Homo sapiens: one gene and its partners. The protein of the gene in region 1 interacts with the protein of each later gene in a biochemical or structural test. Each region holds a gene or a part of one and is shown on either strand. Other genes may lie near its edges.

Region 1 (5,102 bases):
ACTCTCTGCACCCTGTTTACCCTCTGCAGCCCCTGCAGAGGCCAAGCCAGGGGATGAGGAGGAGAAGGAGGTGCCAGTAGATACAACTGACCCTGTGGGTCCAGGCAAGCGGCTTGCCCTGGGGGTGGAACGGGCCAGGGGCTGGAAGGAGACAGATGGAGACACAGGCCCACGGGATGGTGTGAGGCTGGAGGTCGCACCTGCCGGTGGAAAAACACAAGTGGAAACACAGACCCAAAGACCATTACCTTGAGGCCTGGAGAAGGGTCCCTCTGGCCCAGATCTCATGGTCCCTACTGTGTCTAGGCCTCCAAATCTCCTGCCCTTGGAGGAGATGCCACAGTCCCTTTGGTCACTGCTTCCTGGCCTGAAAGCCCAACAGCTGCCCTCAGTCCTTGACCTGTAGCCCCAGGTCTGTCCTGGCACACAGTGAAATGGTACCTAGGAGCCTGAAGACCATTATTAATTATTCTCTCCGCTTTTTCCTCTCCCACCTGGGAAACCTCCCCTCTCCTGTGTCTACCTTTTCTACTTTGACCTTAGCCTCATGCAATCCTGGACACTTCCCCCACTGCTGTCCCTCTCCTACCACCATGAGTGGGAGCAGCCATGGATCAGGGCAAGGGGTGGCAGGATGGCTCATGCAGAACAGCTCACACCAGCCGAGAGGCCTGGCCATCCCGGAGGCTTGGGAAGAGAGGGGACAAGGACAAAGCCACCCCTGGGAGGCTGCCTGACCTGGGTGGGGGAAGCAGAGGATAGCAGGTGGTGATGGTCTGTAAAGGCAGTTGCAGCAGGACTCTCCACGGAACTCGGAATGCACATGCCAAGCCCCACAGCTGGCAAAAGTCAGGGTGATTCTGATGTACAGCTCCCCCACCACAATCTAATACCACAGAATCTCATGGGACCTGTGTCTACAAACGTACTGAAACCTAAGCGCCCTCTGCCTCTGTGGTCTACAGCAACTCCTGAAAGGCATCCCGTGGCCAGGTGACACTGCAAAGCAGACAGGTGCTTGGAGCAGTTTGGGGATGACAAAAGTACTAAGATGACGTCTCCCAGCCTCTAACTGCTCATGTGTCTTGTGGCTGTCCCAGGGCACTGAGGGCTGACTGGGCACCAGCGTCATGTGGAATAGTTTGGGAAGTAGGAAAGAGACATGCTGGCCTGAGAGGTCCAGATGGACAACTATATATTTCTGAGGGGGAGCACTGACATCTGGAGTTGAGTCCAGGCCACTGGATGATGAAGACCTTACTTCCTCTGGGGACTGAGAAGTTTTCATGATTCACTGGGAACTGGAGATCTCTGCGGTAAGACAGTGCCTAAAGGTTCCCCTGCCAACAGCTGATGCAGCCCTTCACTGTCCCTCTCCCACTGCCCTATAGGCCCTGGCTGTTCCCTACAGTCCCTTTGGCAGAGCGCAAAAATGGCCCTACTTATCTCGCTCATCTCCACCCAGCCCCACTGCACTGTGCCTGTCAGTCCTCCCGTCTAGGGAGGGAGTCTATTTCCCTACTCCTTGAATCTAGGCTGGCCTTATAACTTGCTTTTGCCCACAGAATGGAGCACAGGGGACACTGTGCCAGTTTTGAGCCCTCTCTGAGAACTCTGCCCAGCTGCCATGATGGGTTTGTGTGCTGGAGGATGAGAGACTACATAGAAGAGAACCAAGGTGCTCAGCAAACAGCCAGAGGCAGAACTTATGTATATACCGGTGAGTACTTGAGAGGAAATTCAGCCAAGACCAGAAGAAATGCCCATGTAGGTAGCCCAAATGCCTGACCCACAGGATCATATGCTAAATAAATGGCTGTATTTTAAGCTACTAAAAAAAAAATTTGGAAAACTGGAGTGGACTATTTGTTACACAGCAAATGCTAACTGATACACCCACTAAGGAACTGGTTTGCTTCCTGGGTTGAACTCCCTTTATTCCCACCTTGTCTCCTGTTCAAGGAAGCCAGATGGGGCAACTCTAATTCTTACCCTCACTTGAGAGATCAGAAGGACCCTATAATTCCAGATTCCATGCATACCTGCTGTGTGGGTACTGCCCAGTTCTGTGTCCTGCTCCTGATGCCCGCTGGAGGTCAGAGGGCTGAGGGCTGCCAGGTCAGAGGAGGACTCCAGGGGGCCACCATCTGGATTCCTTGGGATGGCTCTGGGGCTGAGCGTCTGCAGGGCTTGCTCTGAATTCTGCAATGAGGGAAAATATGAATAAGGCAGTTGCCTCTCCCAAGAGCTCACAAAGGGCAGCTTGTGCTCTTGGGGCATCTCCTATAGGCCTCAGCCCACACCATGGAGCACAGGAGCCAGGGGAGCCCTTGCCTGGGTTCTGGTAATTCCCAGACCCTCTGTCCACAGGTGTCCTTACGTCTACCTCACAGAAAACACACAGCATTGCCAGGTGCGGTGGCTCACGCCTGTAATCCCAGCACTTTGGGAGGCAAAGGTGGGCAGATCACCTGAGGTCAGGAGTTCGAGACCAGCCTGGCTGACACGGCAAAACCCCATCTCTACTAAAAATACAAAAATTAGCTGGGCGTGGTGGTGGGTGCCTGTAATCCCAGCTACTCAGGAGGCTGAGGCAGGAGAATGACCTGAACCCAGGAGGCAGAGGTTGCAGTGAGCCAAGATCACTCCACTGCACTCCAGCCTGGGTGACAGAATGAGACACTGTCACACACACACACACACACACACACAAAACTGTGGTCTCCCAGCTGGTTGCTGACAGAGGATTAGGGCTGCCACAGGGTGAAGACCTGGTCAGCAGCCTGGAAGCTGGTCTGGGGCAGATCCCCACTGAGGAAGCCCTAGGGTTCTGAGCAGAGATTAGGCGTGATTTATAGGGGACGGGAGAGGGTTTCTGGAAGGCTCAATGGGCAGAAGTGGGCAGATAGGAACACAAAAGTGGTGGCTCAAGGTAGACTATGAGGACAGACCTCTCCTGGGGACTCTGGCGCCTGGGTCTCCTGGACAGGCATGGGGTAACTTGGCTCCTTCTCTCTGCAGCTGTTGTAGGGGATGCTGTGGGCCGCAGCAGGTGTGGGGGGCCCTGGCCTCTCAGCAGGAAGTGACGGTGGCTCCAGTGGGTCTGGGGGACGGTCCGAGGTCCCTAGAGGACAAAGATGTAGTGATATCAAGAAGGAATCAGGGCTGGGCACAGTGGCTCATGCCTGTAATCTCAGCACTTTGGGAGGCCAAGGCAGGCAGATCACGAGGTCAGATCGAGACCACCCTGGCTAACACAGTGAAACCCCATCTCTACTAAAAATACAACATTATTATTAGCCGGGCATGGTGGCGGGCCCCTGTAGTCCCAGCTACTCAGGAGGCTGAGGCAGGAGAATGGCGTGAACCCGGGAGGCGGAGCTTGCAGTAAGCCAAGATCGCGCCACTGCACTCCAGCCTGGGCGACAGAGCGAGACTCCGTCTAAAAAAAAAAAGAAAGAAAAAAAAAGAAGGAATCAGGGGCTGGGCACGATGGCTCATGCCTGTAATCCCAGGATTTGGGGAGGCCAAGGCAGGTGGATTAGGAGGTCAGGAGTTCAAGACCAGCCTGGCCAACATAGTGAAACCCCGTCTCTACTAAAAATACAAAAATTAGCCAGGCGTGCTGGCAAGCACCTGTAATCCCAGCTACTCAGGAGGCTGAGGCAGAAGAATTGCTTGAACCTGGGAGACGGAGGTTGCAGTGAGCTGAGATCGCGCCACTGCACTCCAGCCTGGGCAACAGAGCAAGACTCCGTCTCGGGGGAAAAAAAGAAAAAGAAGCCAGACGTGGTGGCTCACGCCTGTAATCCCAGCACTTTGGGAGGCCGAAGTGGGTGGATCACCTGAGGTCGTGAGTTCGAGACCAGCCTGACCAACATGGAGAAACCCTGTCTCTACTAAAAATAACAAAATTAGCCAGGCGTGGAGGCGCATGCCTGTAATCCCAGCTACTCGAGAGGCTGAGGCAGGAGAATTGCTTGAACCTGGGAAGTGAAGGTTGCCATGACCTGAGATTGCACCATTGCACTCCAGCCTGGGCAACAAGAGCGAGACTCCGTCTCAAAAAAAAAAAAAAAAAATAGAAGGAATCAGGGACTATAGGGAGGCTGAGGAAGGAGAACCACTTGAACCCGGGAGGCAGAGGTTGTGGTGAGCCGAAGTCATGCCACTGCACTCCAGCCTGGGCGACTGAGCAAGACTCTGTCTCAAAAAAAAAGGAATTGGGGGTTCTCCTCATGATTAAAGAGGCTTGGGTGCTCTTGGGTACACCCCCCGCCCCACCCATAGGTCCAAAAGCTGTTCTGATGTGGGCCCACTCCTCAAGAGTGACAAGCAGGGCTGGGCTTGGTGGCTCACGCCTGTAATCCCAGCACTTTGGGAGGCCGAGGCGGGTGGATCACGAGGTCAGGAGATCGAGACCATCCTGGCTAACACGGTGAAACCCCATCTCTACTAAAAAATACAAAAAGTTAGCCGGGCATGGTTGCAGGCGCCTGTAGTCCCAGCTACTCGGGAGGCTGAGGCAGGAGAATGGCGTGAACCCGGGAGGCGGAGCTTGCAGTGAGCTGAGATGGCACCACTGCACTCCAGCCTGGGCGACAGAGCGAAACTCCATTTCAAAAAAAAAAGGAGTGACAAGCATCACTTGGCAAGGGGGCAGGAGTGGGAGGGTGAGAGCAGATGGAGGACAAGGTAGCAAGGGAGGAAGGGGAGTATGGGGGGGCCTCGTGGGTCTCTAGTCACCCACGCCGTGTCAGCAGTCACTCTTCTCTGTCCCCAGGCATCCTAGGACCCAGTGGCTTTCTCCTCCACATGACTATCATTGCTCACTGACCCCTGCCCTGATGCTGCCACCTGAGCCCCTCCCCTTTGCCCCCACCCCTCATCAGGCCCTACCACAGCCATTGTATTCAGGGGATCACTATTTTTGGGTTTTTTTTTTTTGGAGACGGAGTCTCACTCTGTCATCCAGGCTGGAGTGCAGTGGCGCAATCTCGGCTCACTGCAACCTCCACCTCCCCGGTTCAAGCAATTCTCCTGCCTCAGCCTCCCAAGTAGCTGGGATTACAGGCTTGCACCACCATGCGCAGCTAATTTTT
Region 2 (4,569 bases), on another chromosome or scaffold:
CTATCTGTTTATTTAGAGACGGTGTCTTGCTCTGCTGCCCAGGCAGGAGTGCAGTGCTGCCATCATAACTCAGTGCAGCCTTGAATTCCTGTGCTCAAGCGATCTGCCTCAGCCTCCTGAGTAGCTAGGACTACAGGCATGTGCCATTATACTTGGCTAATTAAAAATAATTTTTTGTAGAGATATAACTTAATTTTTTTTTTTTTTTTGAGACGAGTCTCGCTCTGTCACCCAGACTGGAGTGCGGTGGTGTGATCTTGGCTCACTGCAACCTCTGCCTCCCAGGTTCCAGTGATTCTCCTGCCTCAGCCTCCCAAATAGCTGGGATTACAACAGGCATGTGTCACCACTCCCGGCTAATTTTTGTATTTTTAGTAGAGACGGGGTTTCACCATGTTGGCCAGGCTGGTCTCGAACTCCTGATCTCAAGTGATCCACCTGCTTCAGCCTCCCAAAGTGCTGGGATTACAGACGTGAGCCACTGTGCCTGGCTCGATATAACTTAATTTTAAATATGGAGAGGCCAAACAAGGTGGCTATGCCTGTAATCCCAGCACTTTGGGAGGCTGATGTGAGTGGACTGCTTGAGCCCAGGAGTTTGAGACTGGCCTGGGTAACATGGAGAGACCCCTTCTCTACAAAAAATACAAAAATAAATAAGCCAGGAACAGTGGTGCATGGCCTGTGGTCCCAGTTACTTGGTGAGGCTGAGATGGGAGGGTTGCTTGAGCCTGGGAGGGTGAGGCCACAGTAAGCTGAGATCATGCCACTGCACTCCAGCCTGGTGACAGAGCAAGACCCTGTCTCAAAAAAATAGATAAATAAATATATAAATAGGCAGAGTCTCTCAGTACTCATTTCTTTCTAATGCCGGACTAAAAAAAGTTAAGGGGCCCATTAAGCAGCTAATAAGCTACCATTTATTGCTTCATTCCTGTCTTTTCTATAGTTATAATGGGGCAGACTGTCCGAAGAATAGGCAGGCTGGGGAAAGTTCATGGTTACCACAGCTGATACAACAACAGCAACAGAACGTGAGTTAATCCACATGGTGAATATAGTGTAAAACCTGAATTAGAAAAAGCAGGCTGGGTGAGGTGGCTCATGCCTATAATCCCAGCACTTTGGGAGGCTGAGGTGGGAGGATCACTTGAAATCAGGAGTTTAAGACCAGCCTGGCCAATATGGTGAAACCTCATCTCTATTACAAATACAAAAATTAGCCAGATGTGGTGGTGCTCACCTGTAGTCTCAGCTATTCGGGAGGCTGAGGCTGAAGAATCACTTGATCCTGGGAGGCGGAGCTTGCAGTGAGCTGAGATCGCGCCACTGCACTCTAGCCTTGGTGACAGAGCGAGACTCTGTCGCAAAAATAAAAAAACAGGCCAGGCACAGTGGCTCACACCCGTAATCCCAGTACTTTGGGAGGCTGAGGCGGTTGGATCGCTTGAACCCAGGAGTTCAAGACCAGCCTGGGCAACATGGTGAAACCCTGTCTCTACAAAAAATACAAAAATTAGTTGGGCGTGTTAGTGCATGCCTGTAGTCCCAGTTACTCCAGAGGCTGAGGTAGGAGGATCACCTGAGCCCAGGCTGGAGTGCAGTGGTGCGATCTCGGCTCATTGCAACCTCTGCCTCCTGGGTTCAAGCAATTCTTCTGCCTCAGCCTCCTGAGTAGCTCAGACTACATGTGCGCACCACCATGCCCCTCTAATTTTTTGTATTTTAGTAGAGACGGGGTTTTACCATGTTGGCCAGGCTGGTCTCAAACTCCTGACCTCAAGTGATCCACCTGCCTCGGCCTCCCAAAGTGCTGGGATTACAGGCATGAGCCACTGCACCCGGCCAGAAATTATTTTCTTAAGGCAGGAAGAGGTGAGGTTAGAGTTAGCATTTCTCAACAGAATGTTTTGTTTTGAAATGTTTATATCCTAGCAATTGAAACCAAAATGTCTTCCAACATATCAGTAAATCAATAATATGTGGTATGTGTTGGGTGCAAAGTACTGTCTTAGGTGCCTGGGAGAAAAAGATAGCAAACTAATATATATATATGCTCTTGAGTCTGTTTTTGGGACTGGCCTACCTGAGCAAATGTCTTGCAATGGTGGATCTATCCACAGTGACTCTGGAAGATGGCAGCACCACAGGGTCACACATCAGTGTGCTCATAATGGGATCCAGGAACTCATCACAGGCATCTGCATAGGTTTCCTCTTCCTGTTGTTGGAGGTCTGCAAGAGACTGAGTATACAACATCTGGTAGTTAAAGTGAATTCACAGTGTAGCTGAATTCAGCGTGCTCAATGACAGAGCAAGACTCCATCTCAAAAATAAAAAAACAGGTCATTAATAACCCTTGACAGTGACAGTGACACACGTGAGCTTCATTTTCTCAAAAACAAGCCAAGATATTCTAAGAACAAATTAAGCATTGAGCCCCAACTCTGGACCTTTAGGTTGGCTCAGCTGCTGGCAGTCATACTGGAAATGGGTTTAAATGTTAGGAGGAAAAGAAATACATCAGATATAACATCCATCTGGCAACAGTTCTGTTGTAAATGCCATAATTCAAAAGTGGATGGAGAAGGGAGAATGGAGGAGGGTATTATTTGCATAATTAGAGTCACTCATGCAGCCTGCGTATGAAAAGCAGTTTTTGATTTTTGATACAAACAGGTATAGGAATTTTAAAGTCATTTTGACATTTAATTCCTTCACAACTTGAGTTCCTCAGGGATCCACCTGGCTAAGCTCTAAACAAAGATGAAGTCCAACTCAATAAAAAAGAAACTCAATAGAGGGAAGACTGACAGCAATAAGGAAGGTTTTCTATTAGACTTTTGTGCCATGATCTTCCTTCTTCTTACCTGCTAATAGAGCTCTGTCATACTCTAACCAAAGGGATTTAGCTAAATACAATATAGTATTTTAATCTTTAAAATGTATGCATATTCCAATAAAAGCCAACTACCAACTACAAACATAGAGACAATCCAAATAAAAATTAATGACTGAAAACTACTCATCTTTTTTTTTTTCTAAAAAGTTATTCTGCATTAACACCCTAGCTTTTAAAATCTATTGGTAACACTGTGCATAAACGTTTTCATAAAAACATCTTACATAAATGTGCACATTCTTCTCTTCTAGTTGAGGTTTCTTAAATTTTTTTTTTTTTCTTTTTTGAGATGGAGTCTCGCTCTTTTGCCCAGGCGGGAGTGCAGTGGCACTATCTTGGCTCACTGCAAGCTCTGCTTCCTGGGTTCACGCCATTCTCCTGCCTCAGTCTCCTGAGTAGCTGGGACTACAGGTGCCTGCCACCACGCCCGGCTAATTTTTTGTATTTTTAGTAGAGATGGGGTTTCACCGTGTTAGCCAGGATGGTCGCTATCTCCTGACCTTGTGATCTGCCCGCCTCGACCTCCCAAAGTGCTAGGATTACAGGCGTGAGCCACCGCGCCTGGCCCTTAAATTTCTTTTTTCTTTTTTTTTTTTTGAGATGGAATCTCGCTCTGTTGCCCAGGCTGGAGTGCAGTGGTTGCGATCACTGCAACCTCCGCCTCCCAGGTTCAAGCGATTCTCCTGCCTCAGCCTCCCGAGTAGCTGGGATTACAGGCGCCTGCCACCACACCCAGCTAATTTTTGTATTTTTAGTAGAGACAGGGTTTCACCATGCTGGCCAGGCTGGTGTTGAACTCCTGACCTCAAGTGATCTGCCCACCCTGGCTTCCCAAAATGCTGGGATTACAAGCATGAGCCACTACTGTACCCAGCCGATTTCTTAAATTTCTATTCTCACTCTCATGTTGACAAGAATAAAACTAAGAATATTGTAGTTCTAAGTGACTGTCCAAAAAGAACCATCTGTTTATATTTTCTCTTGGTAATGCTCTTTTTCTCCCTGAAATAGAGTAAAAATCAGCACAGCTGAGGTGACAATCTGATTTTTTTTGCATGGATTTTTAGGAGATGGGGTCTTGCTATCTTGCCAAGGCTGGAGTGTAGTGGCTATCCACAGGCATGATCATAGCACACTGCAGCTTCAAACTCCTGGGCTTAAGTGATCCTCTAGCCTTAGGCTCTTAAGTAGCTGGGACTACAGGCTTGAGCCATCATGCCTGGCTGACAACGTGGTTCTTAATGAAATCAGCAAACAATTCCTCCTCTTCCTCACCTTGATTCTCTCTGCCAAGTTGCTGAAAGCCATAATCATATTCCCAGGCTTATTTATTTTCTTCAAGACTCGAACTGTCTGTGCAAAGAGAGTTGGGGAATAGGAACGTCCATCCTTGGGCACAGTGGCACAGAAATTCTCCTCATCCCTGGAACATTAGCATCAGAAAAAAACTGATCACCAGAGGGTTGGTCAATGGAAGAGACAATAGGTAGGCTGCAGAACAAGCATTCTCACCACTTAAAAGCCATGAACATTCTTTTGATATAGAAAGACTTATTTCAATATATATTATTTATAATATATAAATATTATTTTATTATTTATTATTTATAATAATAAAATATAATATATATTTTATTATAATTATATAAAATTATATTATATAAAAT
Region 3 (4,569 bases), on another chromosome or scaffold:
ACAATGATCAAAAATCTTGATACTAGTACAACTCTGACTCATTTACTGTTTGATGCCTTGAATATTTAATAGGTATCTTGATGTTGCTCAAAACAAAGCCCTTGATTTTCCCATCAGCCTCCTTTTCTCTCCACAAACCTATTGAGTCCTACAAAACTCCTGCCCCTGCCCCCTCCTTGCCTTCCCAGCTCCGTGTACAGCATTACCATTTTTCAAGGGGTTCTAGTAGCTGCTGTAGAGCCATCCTTGACTTTCTGCTCTCACTCCTGCATCTAATCCTTCAACATAAGGATCCTTCTATATTGGTATCACATCCAAAGCATAACCTGAATCTGTCCACCTCTTCCTACCTCCACTGATTCTACTGAGCGCAAGCTTCCACTGCCTCTACCTTGGACAGCTGCAAGAACCCTCTATCTGCCTGCTTCCATTCCTGTGCCAGCAACTCAGAGGCCTTTCCTGACCCTGATCTAAAGGAACAACCCCACTCCCAGCCACTCCATGAATTCAGCATGTTATCTTCTCAGCACTTTATGCTACCCAGAAGTATCTTGTTTATATGTTCTCTCTCCTCGTTAGAACTTAATTCCATTAGATTAGGATCTTTCTTAAAGCCTGGTTCTATAAAATCTCTAAATCTGATTCTCCCACTTCTTGGGGCTATAAAATTAGAGAGATATTCATCATTGCTTTGACATGGGCCCTAATAGTATTTGATGAATGAATACATTTTTATTTTATTACAGTTTATGTGTTCAATGAGAAAAAAGTACCTGATTAAATCTCTGGGCGTTTTCCAGAATTTTCCTTTCTTCCTTCAGACAGCTGTAAATGATCATAGACATCTGGATTGGGTCTTCCTGAAAATTATCCTAGATTTGAGTGGTTAGAACAAAAATAAATTAAAATGCAGAATGTTTACTTTATTGTGTATTGTAAGTTGATATGAATTTGTTTATATTCTCCGGGAAACCTCATCTCTCATCTATTAAATTCTATATAAGCTATGTTTGTTAAAATCAAAATATTTCTTTCACGAATTATGACAAAAATTGCTTTAACTTTCTAAGTGCAGGTACCTAACGTACTTTTTGATTTAAAAACAAGTATTTTCACATATGGTTCACATAATATTTTTACTTTAATATCTTTCCATATTTCTTAAGGCCAATTATCTTTGGTTAGGATCCCGAGACAATGCAAATGATATAAAAACTATACATGACATTCCTCAATGAATGCATCTGTTGGTCTAAGCTTTGAACTAGACCAAAGATATTCATCTAGGGTTTTCTGTTGCCATTGTCAAAGCTAGTTTGCAAAACACTACCAATAGCAATAATGGCTCTTTATACAGGTACATTCATGCAAGGTCTGTATGAGAACAAATTTCTGTAAAGTTAATTTGATTTCCCCACTCGTAAATAAAATCATAAATACATTCACAAAGGAAAAAAAACAACTTCCAATTACCTAAGCTGAAAAGTTCAGTTGTATTGTATGAAAGAAGAAAATGATAGCTTTCACCTCCATTAAAACAGAAAAGTTCTGTTATTACACAACATAAATATGATAGCCACCCCAAGGGCATGCTGGGAGTACATCTGAAGAACCCCTAAAACTCTATAGCATGTTCTCTCATGTCTGGATCTTTCTTTGACTTTCTCTTCCAGGAGAGGCCAACTCCACCAGAAGCAAGGCAAGGTGGAGTCTAGTTCCTGAAGTCACCTGACTTCCTTAGGTGAAAGTCAAACCTTTCCTGTTTTATTCCTCATTTGCATAGCAAGGACCTGAACCTAACCACTAATGTTCCCTGGAGCTTTAATGTATTACTATAGATCATTGCTCTTAAAATGTAGCCCCTTTTCTTTGGTTTAAATATTGACAATTTTTAGTAAAACAAAATTATAGCATCACATTTTTCTCAGGATTACTGATACCTAAGAGGTGATACATTTAACCCTAAAAATTCCTTCTGTGTTTATAAAATAAATTGGTATCTTATTTTACTTATGCTATATTTACTGATGCTGTAGAAAACATAAATGGAGTTAGTCTCTATTACTTCTCTAAATACCAATAAGTGTGTGCTCAATTGTATTTGCTGAATGAAGAAAACTGCCTTCCATAAACATGAGAACATTTCAACTAAAATACAAAAACCAGGTCATACCTGAAGATTACGCTTGCTTTTCCTTATGTTATGCTGTAGCAAGAAGTTATTCTCCAAAGAAAAGCGACTATATTGATCATCCAGCTGTGACAGGAGGTCATGAAAACGGATGGTGGCAAATGAAACATCATTGGCAGCGTGCTCCCTAGGAGATTTAACATTTACACATTTCATTCTAGAACTAAATGTCTATGTAAAACAGACAAAACAAATGTTGGTTTCCTTATTGAAATTATTAAAAATAATTTAAGTATTTTCTTAGGTTTATTTTCTTCTTTTGAAACTGACATTGCTTTTAGCAGCAGTTTATGTGGTATTTCTCTTATGTGCAATTAGCACAAAAAATTCTAAACTCTAAGAGATTGTGCATGACAGTGTTCATGGTGACTATCTCTGAAGGGGGAAAAGTCAACAGGGGACCCTTCACTTTCTATGTCAAATACTTTCAGGACGTTTTTAAATTAGCAAATAATAAATTTTAAAGTAGAACACCTATCAGTTAAAAAAAATCCCCTTAATTTTACTACCTTCTTCATATTTCTAATCAATGTTTAACCATTAATTTGGCTTTATTTCTTTTAAATTACTTCTTTCTATAGTCTGGATCCTAAGTTGGAAAATAATCGGTGTCAGTATTCCGTAACTTGTCCAAAGCATTTAGGAATATCTATCATAAATTAAATTTGGCAAAACTGTATAAAAGTGCTTAATGACTAATATACTTAACTTTGTTGAGACACTTTTTGGCTCAACTTTGTTGAGTCATTTTTTAAATCAACAAACTTTTCTACAACAAATAATTCCAGTGGCCATTGATGGAATTCATCTTCCAGTAAACATGGCCCCAAGTCACTTAATCAACCAGTACTTTTAAGGTGTAAACTTCTTCTTCTGTCTAGTGAATTTTCCTTACCAGTCTTGCTTTTCTAACCACTGTGCCAGGTACTGTCTGATTTCCATGGGAAAACTGTCATCATAAAGCTGGTGAACCTGCTCCAGGAATTTTGAGTCAAGCTGCTGAAGTTCGTACCACTGAGACATCCTATAGGGAAAAAGAATATACATTCTTTCTATGTATATGGAAACCATAGCTCCAAAGAAAGCCTTCCTAGCATCAGGTTGTACTCTTAAATATCTTGCTTAATCCAAAACATAGTTTGTCCCAGGAATATTTTATTTAAATGGCATTTATAGTCTAAAGCCTGTTTTTAATTGAGTTTGGGGATGAACTTTTTTTCTCCTCCACGAAACACATCTTCATGTCTTTGCTTATTGTCAACATATCAGGGCAGCCTTCTCTGGCCTCTTTTATTTAAACTGCAACCACCTCCCACCCTGGAAACATGCTCTCTCTTTTCCCTGGTTTATTTTTCTTCATAGTACTTACACCACCATCTGACCTACCACATATTTTATTTTCATTATTGTCTGTTTTCACCACTTGAAGGGATGGATGTTGGTGGAGGATTCTGTGCACTGGTGTATCCCTAGAACAATGTCAACCACATAGTAGGTATCCAATAAATATGCCTTTAAAATGAGTTTGTGATTTTATCAAATAAATACATGAAAAACATTATTTTAATTAGACTTGCTTTAAGACAAATCACAAGACTCTCCCAAAATTGCTCTCCTACAAATCACAGTACATTTGTAATTTAACTCAAATATTTTCAAACTTCTGTTTTATATTTATGATTCATATGGTAAAATTCATTATTTTTCTTATACACATTTAAAAAGATATATTTTCTTCTTTGCCTACTACAAACAATAAATCTGGCATAAAGAAGTAATGATTTTTAAAGATTAAAACATCATTAAATGTAATTTAAAAGGATAAAGTAACACTTAGCTTTTTGGATAACTGTTAAGTCCATTTTTACATAGTGATCCTAAAGATTCAAAATCACAACAAAAACTTGATATAAGCAAGTCCTAAAATTCATTAGGAAAACGGAGAGTCTCCCATGACCATCATGTAACTTAGGATTTATATCAGCACACAGGTGGCAATATGCAGAGCAGACACAAGTGAATCTTGTCCTGCCAGACCTCTGGGGAAGGAGTCTGGATTTTCAAGTAGGGCATGGAAGAGTGTGTATGCATACTTGTAGCCGAGCACATGTATGCAGGCATGAGGTCACGCCTACTCCACAAATGTCCTTCCAAAGGAGTGTGAGGAAATGTCTGGCCTATAAAGCTAGTTATCCTCATATATACCAGTAGAAACGGACCCAAGCCCAGCCCCTTGGCACTCCTGCTGAAGCAATTTGATTTTTCAGTTCAGTTTTATTTTACCTGAGTGGAAAAATCTGTGGCTGTCTCCCTCCCTGCTTGGTAACTAATAAGGATCTACCTAAAGCAGATATGCTGGACCGTCAGGCAATGGGAGC
Region 4 (4,569 bases), on another chromosome or scaffold:
CTCAAGGAACAATCCTAAATGAAATCTAACTGATTTGGGGGAATATTCATTTTTAAATTATGGCTTTCAGTAATAATTAACTTTTATTTCTTTTCTGCCCCCAGTTCTTGATTTAAACTGACAAATAAAAATGGTCTATATTTATCCTGTACAACATGATGTACACATTGTGGGATGGCTACATTGAGCTAATTACCATATACATTACCTCACATACCATTTTTGGTGGTGATAATTAACTTTTATATAAACATATCCTGCACAATGCATTATTTCTTTAATCAGTAAAACAAAAGCTAAAGAATACAGGGTAATTCTACAAATCTTCATCATATCCTTTAATTTTTACTGGAAAAATTTTTGTGTAATTTATTAGGTTCACAATTTCAGCTACATTCTTATGCTTTATGCTCAGCTGTTGTTTTTTTTTTTTTTAAACTTTTTTTGTTTTGAGACAGAGTCTCACTCTGTCGCCCAGGCTGGATTGCAGTGATGCGACCTCTGCCTCCTGGGTTTAAGCAATTCTCCCACCTCAGCCTTCCGAGTAGCTGGGATTACAGGCGCCCGCCACCACACCTGGCTAGGGTTTTTAGTAGAGACAGGGTTTTGCCATGTTGGCCAGGCTGGTCTGGAACTGCTGGCCTCAACTGATCCACCTGCCTCGGCCTCCCAAAGTGCTGGGATTACAGGAGTGAGCCACTGTACCCGGCCACATTCTTACGCTTTAAAAACAAAAATTTATATTCAGGTTGTAGTAACATTTGTCAACAACAAATTTTCACATATTTCCTCCTGACTTGTCATGTGTACACGTGTTTTATTTGTTTACTAACACACAGCATTCTCAGTGTAAGTGCGTATATTCATACAATAGTCTTACTTCTGAACACAGAGCAGATGACACTGACACAGCATTGTATTTAAAGATGTGAAGGCTCAGAATCCACATGAAGACTTAACAGCTACTCTATCTATTAACAGGTCCTTGGAGCACAGACCACTCCCCTACTCGTGCTAGGTCCTGACAGGCCTTCCTCTCGGAAGAGAAACAACACAGATCTCCCAGGCCCGGTGATGGGGCGCCAGGGAAACAGGGTACGTGAAGAGAAAGGAACAGACAGGCTCCCTCCTCCATCCAGGTGCCCCGGGCCCACTCACCACTGCACGGGCTGCCAGTTGGGGAGGAAGGGCCGGAAGCCCGTGATGCACTCAAAGGCCAGGGTGCCGAAGCTCCAGTAGTCGACGGTCACTGTGTACTTCTGCTGCTCCAGTAGCTCTGGGGCCTGCAGCAACAGGAGGGGGTACACCTGAGCTGCTCCTCTCTGGGGGGACCACGGCAGGAGGGGGCGGCCAGCCCATCTGCTTTCACCCCTGGCTTCATCCTAGAGGGCACTGGCACATGCATGCAGGGCGAGGAGGGCACCCCAGGCATGTTTAGCGGGTATATCATGCTACCATTTCTAAGACCTTTCTATGTCCCACTCACTCCAGTAGGTACTGATGGAGGGGCTAAAGATTCAGGGCCAGAGTACATCACACACCCATCGCTAGGCTTTAACTTCTCTCCTTTAAAACTGAGGGTTGCAGGCTGGACGCAGTGGCTCACACGTGTAATCCCAGCACTTTGGGAGGCCGAGGTAGGCGCATTACTTGAGGTCAGGAGTTTGAGACCAGCCTGGCCAACATGGTGAAACCCCGTCTCTACTAAAAATACAAAAATTAGCTGGGCATGGTGGTGTGCACCTTTAGTCCCAGCTATTCAGGAGGCTGAGGCACAAGAATCGCTTGAACCTGGGAAGTGGAGGTTGCAGTGAGCCAAGATCATGCCACTGCACTCCAGCCTGGGCAACAGAGTGAGACTCTGTCTAAAAAAAAAAAAGAAAGAAAGAAAGAAAAAAAAGGAAAAAAAAAAAAAGGGTTGCAGCATTTCAGGCGCTTATTGAAAACTAGCTTAAGGCAGGACACAGTCGTGGGCACTGTGTAGAAATGGGAAGAGAGGCTACAAATGTTAAAGGAAAATGATGCCAGGCTGTCCACACCAAATACACGCATTAAGTGCTGGTTGAACCCCTGAACCAGGTACCATGTGGTTGCAGAAAGGGCCAGGATATTTAGAAACAGGCAGGGAAAGTGTGATGCATGGCTGCTGCTGAGGCAGAGAGCGCTGGGGTGACCGAAGAAGGGGCGGCAGCACGGGGTGCTGGGGGTGCAGACTGGGCTTAGCAGGTGGGTGGAGACAGAAATGACTGGGGCAAGCAAAAGCACAGAGACAGGGTGGTGCATGGTCTGGTTGGAAATGTGAAGCTTAAGGAAGGGCCCGGGAGACCAAACCAAGAGAAGACATTCCGGGATGGGTAGGTCAACCTCTATGTCTGGTTATGGGCAGACGTTTTAGCTCATGTGAGTACATGACTTGACTCAGCTCCTGGTTAGAGCATGGGGTCCCCCTTGCTCGACTGCTGCTGAGCTGAGGAGGACTCCAGAAGGATCTACCAAATCACATGCCATATGGACACAGGCGCCTGAATCACAGCCCTCTGTGAGACCCACTCTGAAAGCCGCAGACTCCTTGAGTCACTCCCAATTGTGGTGGCTACTGCCATCATCAAGCAACCTATGACAAGTCTTGCTGGGCATTTGTGCTAAGCCCTCCTGGAATCTAATTGCCCTCTACATCTTCACTGCCCCTACCTCACCCACTCTTCCCTCCTGTTCAGTGTGATTCCTTCTCCACACAGTGTCAGGAGTGGGCTTTCCAAAGAGTTGCTCCTTCTCCCACTTAAAACCCATCAATCTCTGCAGAGGTTTTAAGATAAAGTCTAGAACTTTAGCCCAGCCCTGAAGGCCCTTCATAATCTGTGCTCTACCTTGTTCTCAGCTTCAACTCAAGACTCTCTTTCCCTTTTGTGCTCGGTTCCAGCCACACCTGCAGGTCTTCCTGTGTGTGATCCCTTTGCACGGAATTCCCCCTGCCGTCCCCCACCTCCAGCCCTTTTCACCTCCTTACCCTTCAAGTCCCAGACCAGGCTGAGGCCACCCAATATATATTCTTGCAACACCCTGCACTCTTGCTTTGTAACACTCACCACAACTGTAATTTCTTAGTTATCTGTGTAAGCATCACAGTAATGCTTGCTTTCCTGCTAAACCCTAAGCTCTGAAGGCCGAAAAGGGCTTGTCTTTTTTCCCCACTGCATCACCAGCCCTGAGCACAGTGCCTGACACAGACTACACTCCATCAATATGCTTGAATGAATGAGTGACTCAAACAGAAACCTAATATTCAGACCAAATAACGTAAACAAAGGGTGGGGAGCTCAGAGCTCTGACCCCTACTCAGTGGCCCCTGAAATACCTCATGGAAAGTGTGGCCTCGGCCAGGCTCAGTGGCTCCTGCCTGTAGTCCTAGCTGCTCAGGAGGCTGAGGTGGGAGGACCGCTCAAGACCAGCATGGATCTGTTTAAAACCCTTTCCTTTCAGAGAAGACACTGAAGCACAGAGAGGCTAGGGGATGGTGCAAGGCGCATGAGCAGAGCCCTCCGGACATCAGAGAAGACGACCACATCCCTCCACAGGGCATCTGGTGGCAAAAAATGCTGACTCGACCAGGTTATGGGTGTGACCTCATGCATCTCCAAAACATTCAGAGAGCCGGTGGGACTCAGGTGCTGGGAGCAAGGCAGGACAGGAGCCCCACAAATGCAGCAGCAGGGAGGAGCTGACAGGCAAACAGGCAAGGCCCACTTCTTACCAGGTACTGCAGGGTCCCCACGAATGATGTGCAAAGACTGCCCTGATCCAGCTCCTTGGCATATCCTAGGTCAATAATTTTGTGTATTAACTAAAACAAAAGGAAGGAGAAAGCTGAGGGTTATAAGAACACAATGTCCTTCTACGAGGATTCTGACTGCCTGGTGTTAGAGCAGAGGTATTTCTGAATTCCCAGGTACTATTAGATCCCAAACTCCTAAGAGCCACCAGATACACAAAAGAATGCCCTCGACACGGTAGATTCAGGGCTAAAAGAAAAGGCATATTGTAAAAATGCTAGGCACGTGTCCTCCCACACTCTGCCACGCATCATCAGAGGGAAGCTGAATGAACAGAACAGGCACCAGCCCTCAAGACAGCTAAACCCAGACTTGAAACAGGAAGGACCGGGCCAGCCTCTTCTCAGTAAATGCCCTCAGTTCTCAAATCTGAGCACCACTGACAGGAGTGAGGGTGAACTGGAACAAGGGCGAGCCCTGTGGTAGTCACAGGCCAGGCCTAGGTGCTAAGGGCAGCTGTATGGGAAGGGATTAGGTGATCTAAGAACTCATTCACTGTATTCCACTCAGCTGAGCCTGTGCTCACCACCCCAGCTGAACACATAGAGTGGGTGGGTAAAGACCACAATGTCAAGCTTGTGGGGCAGTCAACACCACGTCTGAGCCGGGTGGCCACTGAGGAGGCCACAAAGAGCTCTGGGGAAACTATAGGCTGGACCAGGCTTGGCAGCAGAGGCCAGCTCCCAGTGCCTCTTCCCAGCCACATCCACAACCAACTGACCACTGGTTTCCATTTAGA

Evidence for each region.
Region 2: the proteins of MAVS (region 1) and UBE4A form a complex in vitro, tested with the Homo sapiens proteins (one study listed by BioGRID).
Region 3: the proteins of MAVS (region 1) and STAT1 form a complex in vitro, tested with the Homo sapiens proteins (one study listed by BioGRID).
Region 4: of the proteins of MAVS (region 1) and IKBKB, one has a biochemical effect on the other in vitro, tested with the Homo sapiens proteins (one study listed by BioGRID).

The regions. Positions count from the first base shown.
Region 1 is NC_000020.11:3,859,354-3,864,455, reverse strand, and holds part of MAVS (mitochondrial antiviral-signaling protein), read right to left. Parts: intron 3,125-5,102; coding exon 2,952-3,124; intron 2,203-2,951; coding exon 2,043-2,202; intron 201-2,042; coding exon 1-200.
Region 2 is NC_000011.10:118,390,413-118,394,981, reverse strand, and holds part of UBE4A (ubiquitin conjugation factor E4 A), read right to left. Parts: intron 4,326-4,569; coding exon 4,178-4,325; intron 2,245-4,177; coding exon 2,087-2,244; intron 1-2,086.
Region 3 is NC_000002.12:191,006,790-191,011,358, forward strand, and holds part of STAT1 (signal transducer and activator of transcription 1-alpha/beta), read right to left. Parts: intron 3,661-4,569; exon of another isoform or gene 3,583-3,660; coding exon of another isoform or gene 3,578-3,582; intron 3,216-3,577; coding exon of another isoform or gene 3,215-3,215; coding exon 3,087-3,214; intron 2,355-3,086; coding exon of another isoform or gene 2,319-2,354; coding exon 2,174-2,318; intron 873-2,173; coding exon 774-872; intron 1-773. UniProt on the Homo sapiens protein: Signal transducer and transcription activator that mediates cellular responses to interferons (IFNs), cytokine KITLG/SCF and other cytokines and other growth factors.
Region 4 is NC_000008.11:42,305,615-42,310,183, reverse strand, and holds part of IKBKB (inhibitor of nuclear factor kappa-B kinase subunit beta), read right to left. Parts: intron 3,842-4,569; coding exon 3,752-3,841; intron 1,284-3,751; coding exon 1,159-1,283; intron 1-1,158.